Linked DNA regions of Homo sapiens. The protein of the gene in region 1 purifies or fractionates together with the protein of each later gene. This does not show direct contact. Each region holds a gene or a part of one and is shown in the gene's direction. Other genes may lie near its edges.

Region 1 (7,038 bases):
ATTTTTTAGTAGAGACGGGGTTTCACCATGTTAGCCAGTATGGTCTCGATCTGCTGACCTCGTGATCCGCCTGCCTCAGTCTCCCAAAGGCCTGGGATTACAGGCGTGAGCCACCGCGCCTGGCCCCAATTTTTTTTTTTTTTTTTTTTTTTTTTTTTTTTTTTTTTTTGAGACGGAGTCTTGCTCTATCTTCTAGGCTGGACTGCAGTGGCGCAATCTAGGCTCACTGCAAGCTCCGCCTCACGGGTTCACGCCATTCTACTGCCTCAGTCTCCCGAGTAGCTGGGACTACAGGCACCCACCAGCATGCCTAGCTAATTTTTTGTATTTTTAGTAGAGACGGGGTTTCATCGTGTTAGCCAGGATAGTAAGATTTTTAAATTGCATTCTGGGGCTGGGCATGGTGGCTCATGCCCATAATCCCAGCACTTTGGGAGGCCGAGGTGGGAGCATATCTTGAGGCCACGAGTTCAAGACCAACCTGGCCAACATAGTGAGACCCATATCTATAAAAAAAAGAAAAATAAATAAAAAATAAATGTCATTCTGGTTCATGTAGAATTTAGATTTGAGGGTGACAGGAGTGAAAGGGACCATTTTGGAGAGTTATACAGTATTTTAGGCGAGAAATTATGATGACTATAGGGCAAGGGCTGTAGAGAGGGCACAGAGAATTGGATGGATTTACAGTATTGCAGAGGTAGAAATAGGATTTGCTTGTGTGAAATGGAGGAAAGATTCTAGGGCGATTTTCTTTTTTCTTTTCTTTTTTTTTTTTTTTTTTTTTTTTGAGGTGGAGTCTCACTCTGTCGCCCAGGCTGGAGTGCAGTGGCGCCATCTCGGCTCACAGCAAGCTCCACCTCCCAGGTTCAGGCCATTCTGCTGCCTCAGCCTCCCGAGTAGCTGGGATTACAGGCGCCTGCCACCACACCCAGCTAATTTTTGTATTTTGGGTGGAGATGGGGTTTCACCATTTTGGCCAGGTTGTTCTCAAATTCCTGACCTCAAATGCTCCACCCACCTCGGCCTCCCAAAGTGTTAGTATTACAAGTGTGAGCCATTTCGCCCGGCCTAGGCTGATTTTCAAGTGTCTGTTTTTTTGTTGTTTTGTTTTGAGACCATCTCACTTGGTCACCCAGGCTGGAGTGCAGTGGCGCAATCATGGCTAACTGTATCTTCAATGTCCTAGGCTCAGGTGATCCTCCCACCTCATCCTCCAGAGCAGCTGGGACCACAGAGGCTTGCCACCATGCTCAGCTAATTTTTTTTTTTTTTTTTTTTTGCGAGAGTGGGTTTCACCATGTTGCTCAGGCTGGTCTTGAACGCCTGGACTCAAGTGATCTACCTGCCTTGGCCTCCCAAAGTGCTGAGATCACAGGCCTTAGCCACTTGGCCCTGCCTCAGGTTTCTGATTTTAGCAGTTTCTGATTTTAATAACTGGAGGATGATGGTAGCATTTACTGAGATGGAAGAGACTGAGCAAGGAAAGGTTTGGAGGCAGGAATCAAGAGTTTTATTTTGAATTTGTTAAAATTTAGGATGACTGTGAGCCATTCAAGTGGATATCTGAGTCTAGGGTTCAGAAGAGAAGCCTGATCTGGAGGTAAAAATTTGAGACTTAGATCAGCTTATAGTCCACTCATTCAACAAATACTTATTGACTGCCTATTGTGTGCTAAATATTGGGCTATGCACTGGGGTTATTGTGGTGAACAAGAATGTTGTAGTCCCTGCTTTTATGGAGACTAACCACAGAATTAAAATAAAATAATATGAATGGCTTCTATTCATTGAGCGTTTTCTTTGTGCTGGTCACTGCACTCAGTGCCTTACATGCATTTTCTCATTCCATCCTCTCAACAACCCTGGGAGGCCCATTTCATTTTCCAGACAATGATGTCACATAATGTATCAAACCAGATAACTAGTAAGAGGAGGCACCCAGATTTGAACCCAGGCAGTCTGTGGGAACTTAGAGATCAAGACTAACTTTACCTCACAGTGCCTGTGGTGAAACTGAAGTCCCACACAGCTTGTAATCAGTTCTCCCTGTTCCCAAGTTCAGTGTTCTGTGCGCTTGGTTAGATGACCTCTCAGTCTAGAACCCTCTTCCAAGAGACATCAGTCACTAGGCTGCACCGCCCTGCCTGATATGTGGCTGGAGGCTTAGCTGGTAACCTGTCCCTGTCCTCCGTATCCCTAGGATTGTGCACCTGTGCCTGCGAAAGGCTGACCAGAAGCTGGTGATCATCAAGCAGATTCCAGTGGAACAGATGACCAAGGAAGAGCGGCAGGCAGCCCAGAATGAGTGCCAGGTCCTCAAGCTGCTCAACCACCCCAATGTCATTGAGTACTACGAGAACTTCCTGGAAGACAAAGCCCTTATGATCGCCATGGAATATGCACCAGGTGGGCCAGCCTCCTTACAGTGGCCTGGCTGGAGGGCCTCTTACCTCTGGGACAGGCAGACACAGATCTCCTGGCTTCCCTCCTTGGAATGGGCATGGCCAAGGGTTAGAGTTCTGGTCCCAATTATCTGACCCCGGCTAGCCCCTTGTCCTCTCTGGTCCCAGTGCCCTGTTCCATACATAAAAGGAGAGGGGTTGTTGGCTGGGCACGGTGGCTCATGCCTGTAATCTCAGCACTTTGGGAGGCCAACGCCGAGGCGGGCGGATCATGAGGTCAGGAGATCGAGACCATCCTGTTTAACACGGGGAAACCCCGTCTCTACTAAAAATACAAAAAAAAAAAAAAATTAGCCGGGTGTGGTGGCAGGCACCTGTAGTCCCAGCTACTAAGGAGGCTGAGGCAGGAGAATGGCTTGAACCCGGGAGGGGGGGCTTGCAGCAGTGAGCTGAGATCATGCCACTGCACTCCAGCCTGGGCAACAGAGCGAGACTCCATCTCAAAAAAAAAAAACAACAACAACAATGGAGAGGGGTTGTCGTAGGTGTGAGAAAGCCTGGATCTTGATTAGTCCCTTGGGCCACAGGCGGCACTCTGGCTGAGTTCATCCAAAAGCGCTGTAATTCCCTGCTGGAGGAGGAGACCATCCTGCACTTCTTCGTGCAGATCCTGCTTGCACTGCATCATGTGCACACCCACCTCATCCTGCACCGAGACCTCAAGACCCAGAACATCCTGCTTGACAAACACCGCATGGTCGTCAAGATCGGTGATTTCGGCATCTCCAAGATCCTTAGCAGCAAGAGCAAGGCCTACACGGTGCCTGGGCATGGAAGGGACCTCCAGGGCACTAGAAGTCTTGAGGGCCAGGACCTAACCCTGCCTCCTCCCCTCCCCCTAAAAAACCCTTGGCCCTTTGGCCCCTGTTTGGGTGGTTCTGCAGGAGGAAGCCCCTTGGCTTGCTTTGAGAAGAAGCTGTCCCCAAATGGGCTTATGCACAGAGCCCCTGGTCTTCCCTCCCTGCAGGGCTGTGATCCCAGCTTCTATCCTGCAGGTGGTGGGTACCCCATGCTATATCTCCCCTGAGCTGTGTGAGGGCAAGCCCTACAACCAGAAGAGTGACATCTGGGCCCTGGGCTGTGTCCTCTACGAGCTGGCCAGCCTCAAGAGGGCTTTCGAGGCTGCGGTGAGTGTATGCACCCTCCAGGGGACAACTGAGAAATCTACTGCCTCGCCCAGCAGCCCTTGGCTCAAGCCACCTCAGGTTTCTCCTCTAGCTGAGTCATGTCTCTCCCTTATCAGATTACCCCAGGGGAGGGCTATGGGTGTCCCTCAGACTATGGATTTCTGAGAGTAGGTCTTGCCTCCCATTAGACGGAGGGCTCCTGAGGGCAGGGCTGTGGCTTTCCCAGAAGACCCTCCCAAGAGCAAGACTTGAGTTTTCCCAGCATGCTGGGGTTTCTGAGGATATAGCTGCAGCTCCCCTATCAGACTAGGGATCACTGAAAGCCAGGTTGGACTCCCCTGTCAGTCTGGGAGTCTCCTCATCAGACTGAAGTCTCCTGAGGGCAAAGCTGTTATTGTTTATTTATTTATTTTTTTTATTATACTTTAAGTTTTAGGGCACATGTACACAACGTGCAGGTTTGATACGTATGTATACATGTGCGATGTTGGTGTGCTGCACCCATTAACTCATCATTTAACATTAGGTATATCTCCTAATGCTATCCCTTCCCCCTCCCCCCACCCCACAACAGGCCCCGGTGTGTGATGTTCCCCTTCCTGTGTCCATGTGTTCTCATTGTTCAATTCCCACCTATGAGTGAGAACATGCGGTGTTTGGTTTTTTGTCCTTGCGATAGTTTGCTGAGAATGATGGTTTCCAGCTCCATCCATGTCCTACAAAGGACATGAACTCATCATTTTTTACGGCTGCATAGTTTTCCATGGTGTGTATGTGCCACGTTTTCTTAATCCATCTATCATTGTTGGACATTTAGGTTGGTTCCAAGTCTTTGCTATTGTGAATAGTGCCACAATAAACATACGTGTGCATGTGTCTTTATAGCAGCATGATTTATAATCCTTTGGGTATACACCCAGTAATGGGATGGCTGGGTCAAATGGTATTTCTAGTTCTAGATCCCTGAGGAATCGCCACACTGACTTCCACAATGGTTGAACTAGTTTACAGTCCCACCAACAGTGTAAAAGTGTTCCTATTTCTCCACATCCTCTCCAGCACTTGTTGTTTCCTGACTTTTTAAAGATCACCATTCTAACTGGTGTGAGATGGTATCTCATTGTGGTTTTGATTTGCATTTCTTGATGGCCAGTGATGATGAGCATTTTTTCATGTGTCTTTTGGCTGCATAAATGTCTTCTTTTGAGAAGTGTCTGTTCATATCCTTCGCCCACTTGTTGATGGGGTTGTTTTTTTCTTGTAAATTTGTTTGAGTTCTTTGTAGATTCTGGATATTAGCCCTTTGTCAGATGAGTAGATTGCAAAAATCTTCTCCCATTCTGTAGGTTGCCTGTTCACTCTGATGGTAGTTTCTTTTGCTGTGCAGAAGCTCTTTAGTTTAATTAGATCCCATTTGTCAATTTTGGCTTTTGTTGCCATTGCTTTTGGTGTTTTAGACATGAAGTCCTTGCCCATGCCTATGTCCTGAATGGTATTGCCTAGGTATTCTTCTAGGGGTTTGATGGTTTTAGGTCTAACATGTAAGTCTTTAGTCCATCTTGAATTAATTTTTGTATAAGGTGTAAGGAAGGGATCCAGTTTCAGCTTTCTACATATGGCTAGCCAGTTTTCCCAGCACCATTTATTAAATAGGGAATCCTTTCCCCATTTCTTGTTTTTCTCAGGTTTGTCAAAGATCAGATAGTTGTAGATGTGTGGCATTATTTCTGAGGGCTCTGTTCTGTTCCATTGGTCTATATCTCTGTTTTGGTACCAGTACCATGCTGTTTTGGTTACTGTAGCCTTGTAGTATAGTTTGAAGTCAGGTAGCATGATGCCTCCAGGCAAAGCTGTTATTATCCCAGGAGACCAGGGGCTGGAGCTGGGGGGTGCTGCCCTCACTTCCCCAAATTCTCAACCTGGTGCCTTCACAGAACTTGCCAGCACTGGTGCTGAAGATCATGAGTGGCACCTTTGCACCTATCTCTGACCGGTACAGCCCTGAGCTTCGCCAGCTGGTCCTGAGTCTACTCAGCCTGGAGCCTGCCCAGCGGCCACCACTCAGCCACATCATGGCACAGCCCCTCTGCATCCGTGCCCTCCTCAACCTCCACACCGACGTGGGCAGTGTCCGCATGCGGAGGCCTGTGCAGGGACAGCGAGCGGTCCTGGGCGGCAGGGTGTGGGCACCCAGTGGGAGCACAGGAGGTCTGAGGCAGAGGGAAACCTGGGGCAAGTCCTCCCTTCCTGCATGTAGGAATGTCAGGAGGGTCTTTGTCCTTAGGCCCCCATCTGTCCTGCAGGGCAGAGAAGTCCGTGGCCCCCAGCAACACAGGGAGCAGGACCACCAGTGTCCGCTGCAGAGGTAAGTGGGAAGAGGCCGCCAGTCCCCATGGATGCCACACCATTCCCATCAGTTTAATAGTCCCCATGCACTGTACCTGCAGGTATCCCCCGGGGACCTGTGAGGCCAGCCATCCCACCACCACTGTCGTCAGTGTATGCCTGGGGTGGTGGGCTGGGCACCCCCCTGCGGCTGCCAATGCTCAACACAGAGGTGGTCCAGGTGGCAGCTGGGCGCACGCAGAAAGCCGGCGTCACGCGCTCTGGGCGTCTCATCCTGTGGGAGGTGAGCAGGCCAGGGGGTGGCCTGGATGGGTGGAGGTGGAGGTCCACAGCAGGGTTGGGGTGCTCAGGCGCTGCCCATCCCCCTGCCCCTGCAGGCCCCACCCCTAGGTGCAGGCGGAGGCAGTCTCCTTCCTGGGGCAGTGGAGCAGCCACAGCCCCAGTTCATCTCGCGTTTCCTGGAGGGCCAGTCGGGTGTGACCATCAAGCACGTGGCCTGTGGGGACTTCTTCACTGCCTGCCTGACTGGTGAGTTGTCGGGCCTACCTTGTGGGACCTGCTCTGAGGCCCCACAGAGCACCTTCTCTCTTCTCTTGCAAAACACGCACTTAATGAATGCTTCTGTCTACTAGTTATCGAGTTATTGCTTCTGTCTAGTAACTATTGAGGAGATTTCCTTATACAACCTCCTTTACCCTACGGACAGGCCTGGCAAGGCAGTTATTATATTATCCTCATTTGACAAGTGGGGACGCTAAGGCTCAGAGAGGGTGTCACTTGTCCAAAGTCACATATGTTTGAAGGGACTCATATCCTTTTCTCTCTTCCTATCCCATCCTTCCAGCCCTGGTCCCCAACTTTATTTTGCTGCTGCAACCCACTGGAGGACCGGGCTATCTGGAAAGACTGTTTAACTTCTTTCCCTTCTCCTTCCTCACTGCCCTTCTCCCCAGACAGAGGCATCATCATGACATTCGGCAGCGGCAGCAATGGGTGCCTAGGCCATGGCAGCCTCACTGACATCAGCCAGGTGGGTGTCACATATACCTTGGGAAGGGGAAGTCGGGGGATGGCGGGGAGCCCACATCTGTGAGTTGACA
Region 2 (7,038 bases), on another chromosome or scaffold:
TGGCCAGGTGTGGTGGCTCACGCCTGTAATCCCAGCACTTTGGGAGGCGGAGGTGGGTGAATCACGAGGTCAGGAGTTCGAGACCAACCTGGCCAAGATGGTGAAACCCCATCTCTACTAAAAATACAAAAATTAGCCAGATGCGGTGGTGGGTGCCTGTAATCCCAGCTGTTCTGGAAGCAGAGGCAGGAGAATCGCTTGAACCCGGGAGGCAGAGGTTGCAGTGAGCCTAGATCTCACCACTGCCCTCTAGCCTGGGAGACACAGCAAGACTCCATCTCAAAAAAAAAAAAAAAACAATTCTGGAGTTCCGGCCTGGAGCGGTGGCTCACACCTGCAATCTCAGCAGTTTGGGAGGCCAAGGCGAGCAGATCACTTGAGGTCAGGAGTTTGAGACCAGCCTGGCCAACATGGCAAAACCCCGTCTCTACTAAAAATACAAAAATTAGCTGGGTGTAGTGGCGTGTGCCTGTCATCCCAGCTACTCGGGAGGCTGAGGCACAAGAGTCACTTGAACCCAGGAGGCAGAGGTTGCAGTGAGCCAAGATCACGCCACTGCACTCCAGCCTGGGTGACAGAGCGAGACTCCATCTCAAAAAAAGAATTCTGGGGTTTACCTTGCTGGTTGCTAAAGAAAGTAATTGCTCTTTGAATGGCGCCTTAACATTATCATTTGATCCCTGCAACAGCCAGGTGAGAGGGATGCTATCCCCACATTTGTGATGAAGAGGCAGCTTACTCTAAAAATGTGCGCTGAAATTCACGTGCACTGACTCCACACTCTGTGCTCCTTGTCCTGGGCTGCAGCTTCCTCCCAGTTACTCAAGAGGGCTCATTTCGACCAGAGTCAGCCCAGAGTCACAAGTGCCCTCTGGCAGCTGCTCCATCCCCTGGGATCAATTAAAGGCTGCAGAAGGCCTGCCTTCAGCCCCCCAGCAAGCAGACTGGCCATGAGGATGCCTGCTCTGACAGGAATGGGGTACCTGCTGGCCCAAGCTTGGAGGAAGGTGTGGGATGAGCATGTGAGGGAGGGGCTAACATCTGGCGGCTGCAGCAAGGCTCAGCTGTGCAGGTAGGCATGGGGTCCGGCCCCAGCCTAGCAGCTGGGCTTCAGGGTACAGCATGAAGATGCCCAGTTGGGCAGCGGCTTTTGGCCAGCTGTGTCTGCAGGTTTGGAGGAGGGAGCATGTTCTGATTGCTTCTTACATGGGAGGGAAAGAAAATATGAGCATTGGCTCTTCTGTTGGCTGTGGCTGTGAACTTCCTTAGAGCTCAGCTGCTCGATATCTCAGGGGTCCTCTGATTTGGAATTATGATTGTACATTTAGTTTTTAGAAGAAAAAAAATTTTTAAACAATGTCCATGGGAATCCAGGATTTTCTAAGACCCCAAGACTTTTCAGTATATCTAAGAAAGGATATGCCAACGTTTGTTTTGCCTAAAAATGATTGCTTTATTTGCATGAGATCAGGGCCGTGATCTGCTGCTCATTCGTGTTTTGTTGGCAAGATCTGTCTCTGAAGTGTTTTCAGATGTTCTTGGGTAATAAACCTTCCAGAAGAGCTGCTGGATTTGTCCATTACGTAGGTCTCCAATTAGATTGCTTTTGAGAATTAGATGCTTTTTAAAGCCAGGCTGTGTTGTTACACCCTTGTGACTTTTCTGTTATATTAAACCTTTCCGTGGTTAACTTTAAAAATCTTTGTTTACCCAGATGAGGAGAAAAGGCGACCTGATATTTTCCATGCATTGAAAATGGGTAAGCGCTTTAGAAAATCTTTTTGGATATTTAAGAATATAGGGCTACATTCTCCCAACCTAATATTTGTAGTCCTTTGCAGGGCCACCCAGGGTATTTGAGAAAGAAACAGGCATTTTGGTGTTTGGTGTTTGGAAGTTCAGATCCTGGAGGCCAGTATTTATTGTAGAGCTCTACACATAGACTCCAGACGGCCTCCAGCCCCACTCCAGCCAAACACTGTCTAGCTATGCCCTAGCTCTTCCTGCATCTGAAATGCCTCTCTGCATACCCACTCCAGTCTCTTTGTGACAAAGAGGCATTTAGCCTAAAATTTTCTCTCTTGATATAGACCCTGCTTCCAGGAAGCCCTTCCCGATCCTCACCCCGCAGCGAGACCTGAACTCTCCTTCTGTCTTCTTCTGTCTCCTTCATCCGTTCTCTGAAGACACTAACAACACTTCTGTCTTTTGGTAACACTTCTGCCCATTCGTGTGTTTGTCTCTGTCTCGCCTAGACTGAGGCATTTAAGAGTCGGGGCTATCTCTGACGCCCTCTTAGTATCCCCTATGATGCCCAGCAGCCCACTGCAGAGGCAGAGCAGGGCCAGCAAGTGTTTGTTACATGAACCACAGGAGAAATCAGCCTATGGTACCAGGCCCACAGTTCACCCGGACTCCTGCTTGTGTTTGCAGGAAACTTCCAGCTGGTCAAAGAGATTGCCGATGAAGACCCCAGCCACGTGAACTTGGTCAATGGGGACGGGGCGACGCCACTGATGCTAGCAGCTGTTACGGGGCAGCTGGCTCTGGTGCAGCTGCTGGTGGAGAGGCACGCGGATGTTGACAAGCAGGACAGCGTGCATGGCTGGACGGCCCTCATGCAGGCAACCTACCATGGGTCAGTGCCAGCCCCACGCCCTCAGCGACAAGGCCAGACAGATGCTCTGGCCTGAGATGGAGGTTCCCAATGGGCTCTTCTGGTCCTGAGATGCTGCATACAAACCCCAGGACTATGACGACATTGAGGCATGGAAAAAAAAAAAAAAAGCGGCACAGGCTCATTTTAGTCCCACCCTTCTGTGTCCAGATTTCCTGTTCCCCCATCACAGAATTTCACAATGGCCCTGAAAAACCATGCAGCAGGAGCATTTTATGCAGAGAGATAAGGTTCTCTAGGTTGGTTTCAGTTGAACACAGTGACTGATTCATTGGAGTTTTCACATTGAGATATAGTGACCTCCTTAAGTAGCTCCTGTATGAAGTAAACATTGGTTATTCATACCATTGTCGTCTTGTGATGATTGATGGTGAGATGTGTCCTACCCCTCTCCTTTTGAATAGGCTTCAGTGTTTACAGGGTGCTTATGAACCCCTTCTTATGTGATCATCCCAGCAGGATGGGCTGTCATCCTCCTGGAGGCCTCGTCTTTGGGGTGGGCATCTTGTAGCTGCTAAGTGATCTGACTCCCAGTTAGAGGTTCTTTCCTTGCCCTCTTTTAGGTGATCAGATCACTTTCCTGTGTCATCTGAAAACAGTTTGTTTTCTTATTCGATGAGTCTTGAATTCCAAGACGAAATTTTATTTCAGACACCTTGGTCTGTAGGAGACTTTCCCAATGGAGATGTCCTGATTTAGGGTGGAAGAAGTGGAGTCTCCATGGGGTCAGTGATTTTTGGGCAGAGCTGTTGGTTTTGTCTCCTCTCCCCTCCCCCTCCCCTCCCCTCCCCTTCCTTTTCCTTCCCTTCTCTTTTCTTTTCTTTTCTTTCCAACAGTATCTCACTTTGTTGCCAGACTGGAGTGCAGTAGCGTGATCATGGCTCACTGCTGCCTTGACCTCCCAGACTCAAGCATCCTCCAACCTCAGTCTCTCAAGTAGCTGGAACTACAGACTTGCACCACCACACCTAGCTAATTTTTAAACAAAATTTTTAGTAGAGACAGGGCCCCCCATGTTGCCCAGGCTGGTCTCAAATTCCTGGGCTCAAGTGATCCTCCCACCTTGGCTTCCCAAAGTGATGGGATTACGGGTGTGAGCCACCACATCTAGCCTCAGTCTTCATTTTGTTCCTGGAAGGAACACTTAGACTTTGATTTAAATCATGTTCCCGCTTGACCTGCCCACGTGCTAGGGAATGAGAGAATGTGAGACTGTTTGCCCTTCCATGTCCTTCTTAAATGCTCAGAGACTGAGCTTTGTAGTTAATGTTGGTTTTGTTGCCCAGGAGCAAAGCCATGCCTTTGCTTTCAGTGAATGTAACTCTAGCATTTTTTCCCAGGAATAAGGAAATTGTGAAATATCTGCTAAACCAAGGGGCCGATGTCACTCTTCGTGCAAAAAATGGATACACGGCCTTTGACCTGGTGATGCTGCTGAATGATCCCGGTAGGTAATTTCAAGAAAAGGGTTGTAAATCTACCCAGCGTTTCTTGGACTGGGAGTCAAGACAGGCACCTCCTCTGTGACTTGTGTTTTAAGCACTTGCTTATTCGTGGGGGAAAGTCACTCTCAAGTGTCAGGAGCTTACTGCATGATCTTAGGCAAGTTCCTTCCCTCCCCAGTGAAGCGCTGGACTTGGACCAGGTGGCCCCGGGGACTTCCTCCAGCACCAACCTCCTAGGAGTCTCTAGAGAGGGAAGGAAAATAAGACGTGTCTGACTTTGCAGTCCACACACACCCTAGAATGGCATCTGTGCTTCACAGCCAGAAATCCTGAGTCACTCAGGTGGAAACATAAAGTCCCCTTTGATAAGCAGAATGGGAGATAGAGCGATGGCCTTCTCAGCTTAATTGTGTAGGTAGAGGCTGCAGGGTCAAGGGTCGTGTACTGGGAATGTAGCCGTTAGTTCCACCCCATTTTGGCCTCGGCTGGTACCTGCTACTCCCCTTTGACCCTCCCCTGCTGTGACAGACCCTCTTTTGGGACCTGGGCTTCCAGTTAGCCAGCTCAAGGGGAAAGGTCTCTGATCTGTCGTCTTTCTTATCAACCTGGAGTTTCAACCCAGAGAGAGAGAAGCCCCGAGGCCCTTCTGACCCACTGGGCTTGAACCCTGTGCTGGGATTCTAGCTGTTGGCTGTGGGGAGAGAAGACTTTCACCTCTGCAGTCACAAGTCACCTGCTGCCCCTCTTAGCTAGAGGGGTAGCCAGCAGGCATGCCCTTCCTCGTCACAGCACTGCCACCCTTGCCACCCCTTCCCTGCTGCAGGCCCCTGCACTTCACAGATGCACACTTGGTTCTGTTTGACCCTCAAAGAGGTCTGAGAGGGGAAGCAGAGGTTCACATCCTCTTGAAGAGATGAGGTCGCCAAGACTCGGGAAGTGATCTGTCCCAGCCAGAGGGTTGGAGTCCTGTGCCCCAAGTCCAGTGATCCTACTCCACCTCATTGGAGACCTTCTTCACTTGCCAAGAGTTTGTTATTCGGAATCAGTCCGCAGCCACTCTCGCTGGATCTCATACACACTTTTTCTGAGAAACTCATCTTTTCAGTGTTCCTCTTCTCCCTAGCCTCCACTGCCGTTTATTCCCTTTCCCAATAAAACAGTCTATTCCTAGGAATATTTTGCCTACTGGGTTTTTAAATGAAGTGTTTACACAAAACTTTTGAAGAAACTCATGCCTATTATTGAATACTTGGAGAGAAAAAAGAAATAACCTGGCGTGGATGGCTCACGCCCATAATCCCAGCACTTTGGGAGGCTGAGGTGGGTCGATCACTTGAGGCCAGGGGTTCGAGACCAGCCTGGCCAACATGACGAAACCCCATCTCTACTAAAAATACAAAAATTAGCCAGGCATGATGGCGGGCACTGTAGCCCCAGCTACATGGGAGGCTGAGGCAAAGAACCGCTTGAACCTAGGAGGTGGAGGTTGCGGTGAGCCAAGATTGTGCCACTGCACTCCAGCCTGGGTGACAGAGCAAGACTCTGTCTCCAAAAAAAAAAAAAAAGAAATAGTCATCAAGAAAAAGCATTGTTAATAGTTTGGAGTAGTTTCTTCTCAATCTTTTTTGCAATGCTTTTTTTATATAACTGAGTTGGGTTCCTAATAACTTCATAATACTTAGTATTTTTAAAGCACTTGTATTGCTCTAAAGGAATTCCCGTGAATTGATAAGATACCTTTATGTGGTGGGTATTAATGTCACTGACTTGTACAGACGCACAAAGAGGCTTTGTAATTTACCTGCAGTTACACAGCCAGGGAGGGACAGAAGCAGAATCTGAACCTCTGCAGCCTGGCTGTGAAGCCTGCACTTTTAAACACACTGTCCCCCTGCCTTCCTCATGAGAGAGGACTTCCGGTTTTTCTTTCTGGTTAAGTAGGTTAAGCCCTGCTGGCTTTGTTTGCCACCTTTTGAAGATCAGATGGAGAGGCAGGTGCCTTGATTCTGGAATTACACAGACCCTGGAGCTGCAGGGCTGAGTTCTAAGTCTAACAGGGGTCATCTTGAGTCTTCTCCTTATGGCCCAACAGACATATTTGCAGGTAAAATGATGCCTTTTGTGTCCATAGACACGGAACTTGTTCGACTGCTGGCATCTGTCTGCATGCAGGTGAATAAAGACAAAGGCCGGCCGAGCCACCAGCCTCCCCTGCCCCACTCGAAGGTCCGACAGCCCTGGAGCATCCCAGTGCTGCCCGATGACAAGGGTGGACTGAAGGTTTGCCTTTTCCTGTCTTAAAGGGGCTTGGGGGCTAGGGAGATGGGGGCTGGCGGGGAGCCTGCTGCCTCCTATGCACCCAGGCTGGTTTATGCTAGGGAGTCCCTGCAGGGGTGGCAGGTGAGCTGGCATTGAGCAATAGGAAACAAAGGGGACCAGGAAAAACTGGGGAGACTGTGACCATGTTGTGGCAACAGTGGCTGCTTTGTAAGAATGTGGGTCCACGCGGCCGGGCACGGTGGCTCACGCCTGTAATCCCAGCACTTTGAGAGGCCAAGACGGGCGGATCACGAGGTCAGGAGATTGAGACCATCCTGGCTAACACGGTGAAACCCCGTCTCTACTAAAAATACAAAAATTAGCCGGGCATGGTGGCGCACGCCTGTAGTCCCAGCTACACGGGAGGCTGAGGCAGGAGAATGGCGTGAACCCGGGAGGCGGAGCTTGCAGTGAGTCGAGATCGCGCCACTGCACTCCAGCCTGGGCGACAGAGCGAAACTCCGTCTCAAAAAAAAAGAAAAAAGCTTGAGCCTGGTAGGCTGTGGTTGCAGTGAGCTGAGATCACGTCACTGCACTCCAGCCTGGGCGACAGAACAAGAACTTGTCTCAAAAAGGAATGTGGGTCCATATTACTAG

What was found.
Region 2: the proteins of NEK8 (region 1) and ANKS6 purify together in Homo sapiens (affinity purification with mass spectrometry; 2 studies listed by BioGRID and IntAct, with this or other methods). This does not show direct contact.

The regions. Positions count from the first base shown.
Region 1 is NC_000017.11:28,731,780-28,738,817, forward strand, and holds part of NEK8 (serine/threonine-protein kinase Nek8), read left to right. Parts: intron 1-2,203; coding exon 2,204-2,409; intron 2,410-2,992; coding exon 2,993-3,225; intron 3,226-3,460; coding exon 3,461-3,592; intron 3,593-5,526; coding exon 5,527-5,735; intron 5,736-5,895; coding exon 5,896-5,957; intron 5,958-6,039; coding exon 6,040-6,221; intron 6,222-6,315; coding exon 6,316-6,466; intron 6,467-6,891; coding exon 6,892-6,968; intron 6,969-7,038. UniProt on the Homo sapiens protein: Required for renal tubular integrity. May regulate local cytoskeletal structure in kidney tubule epithelial cells. May regulate ciliary biogenesis through targeting of proteins to the cilia.
Region 2 is NC_000009.12:98,779,553-98,786,590, reverse strand, and holds part of ANKS6 (ankyrin repeat and SAM domain-containing protein 6), read left to right. Parts: intron 1-1,714; coding exon 1,715-1,759; intron 1,760-2,433; coding exon 2,434-2,638; intron 2,639-4,017; coding exon 4,018-4,124; intron 4,125-6,253; coding exon 6,254-6,402; intron 6,403-7,038.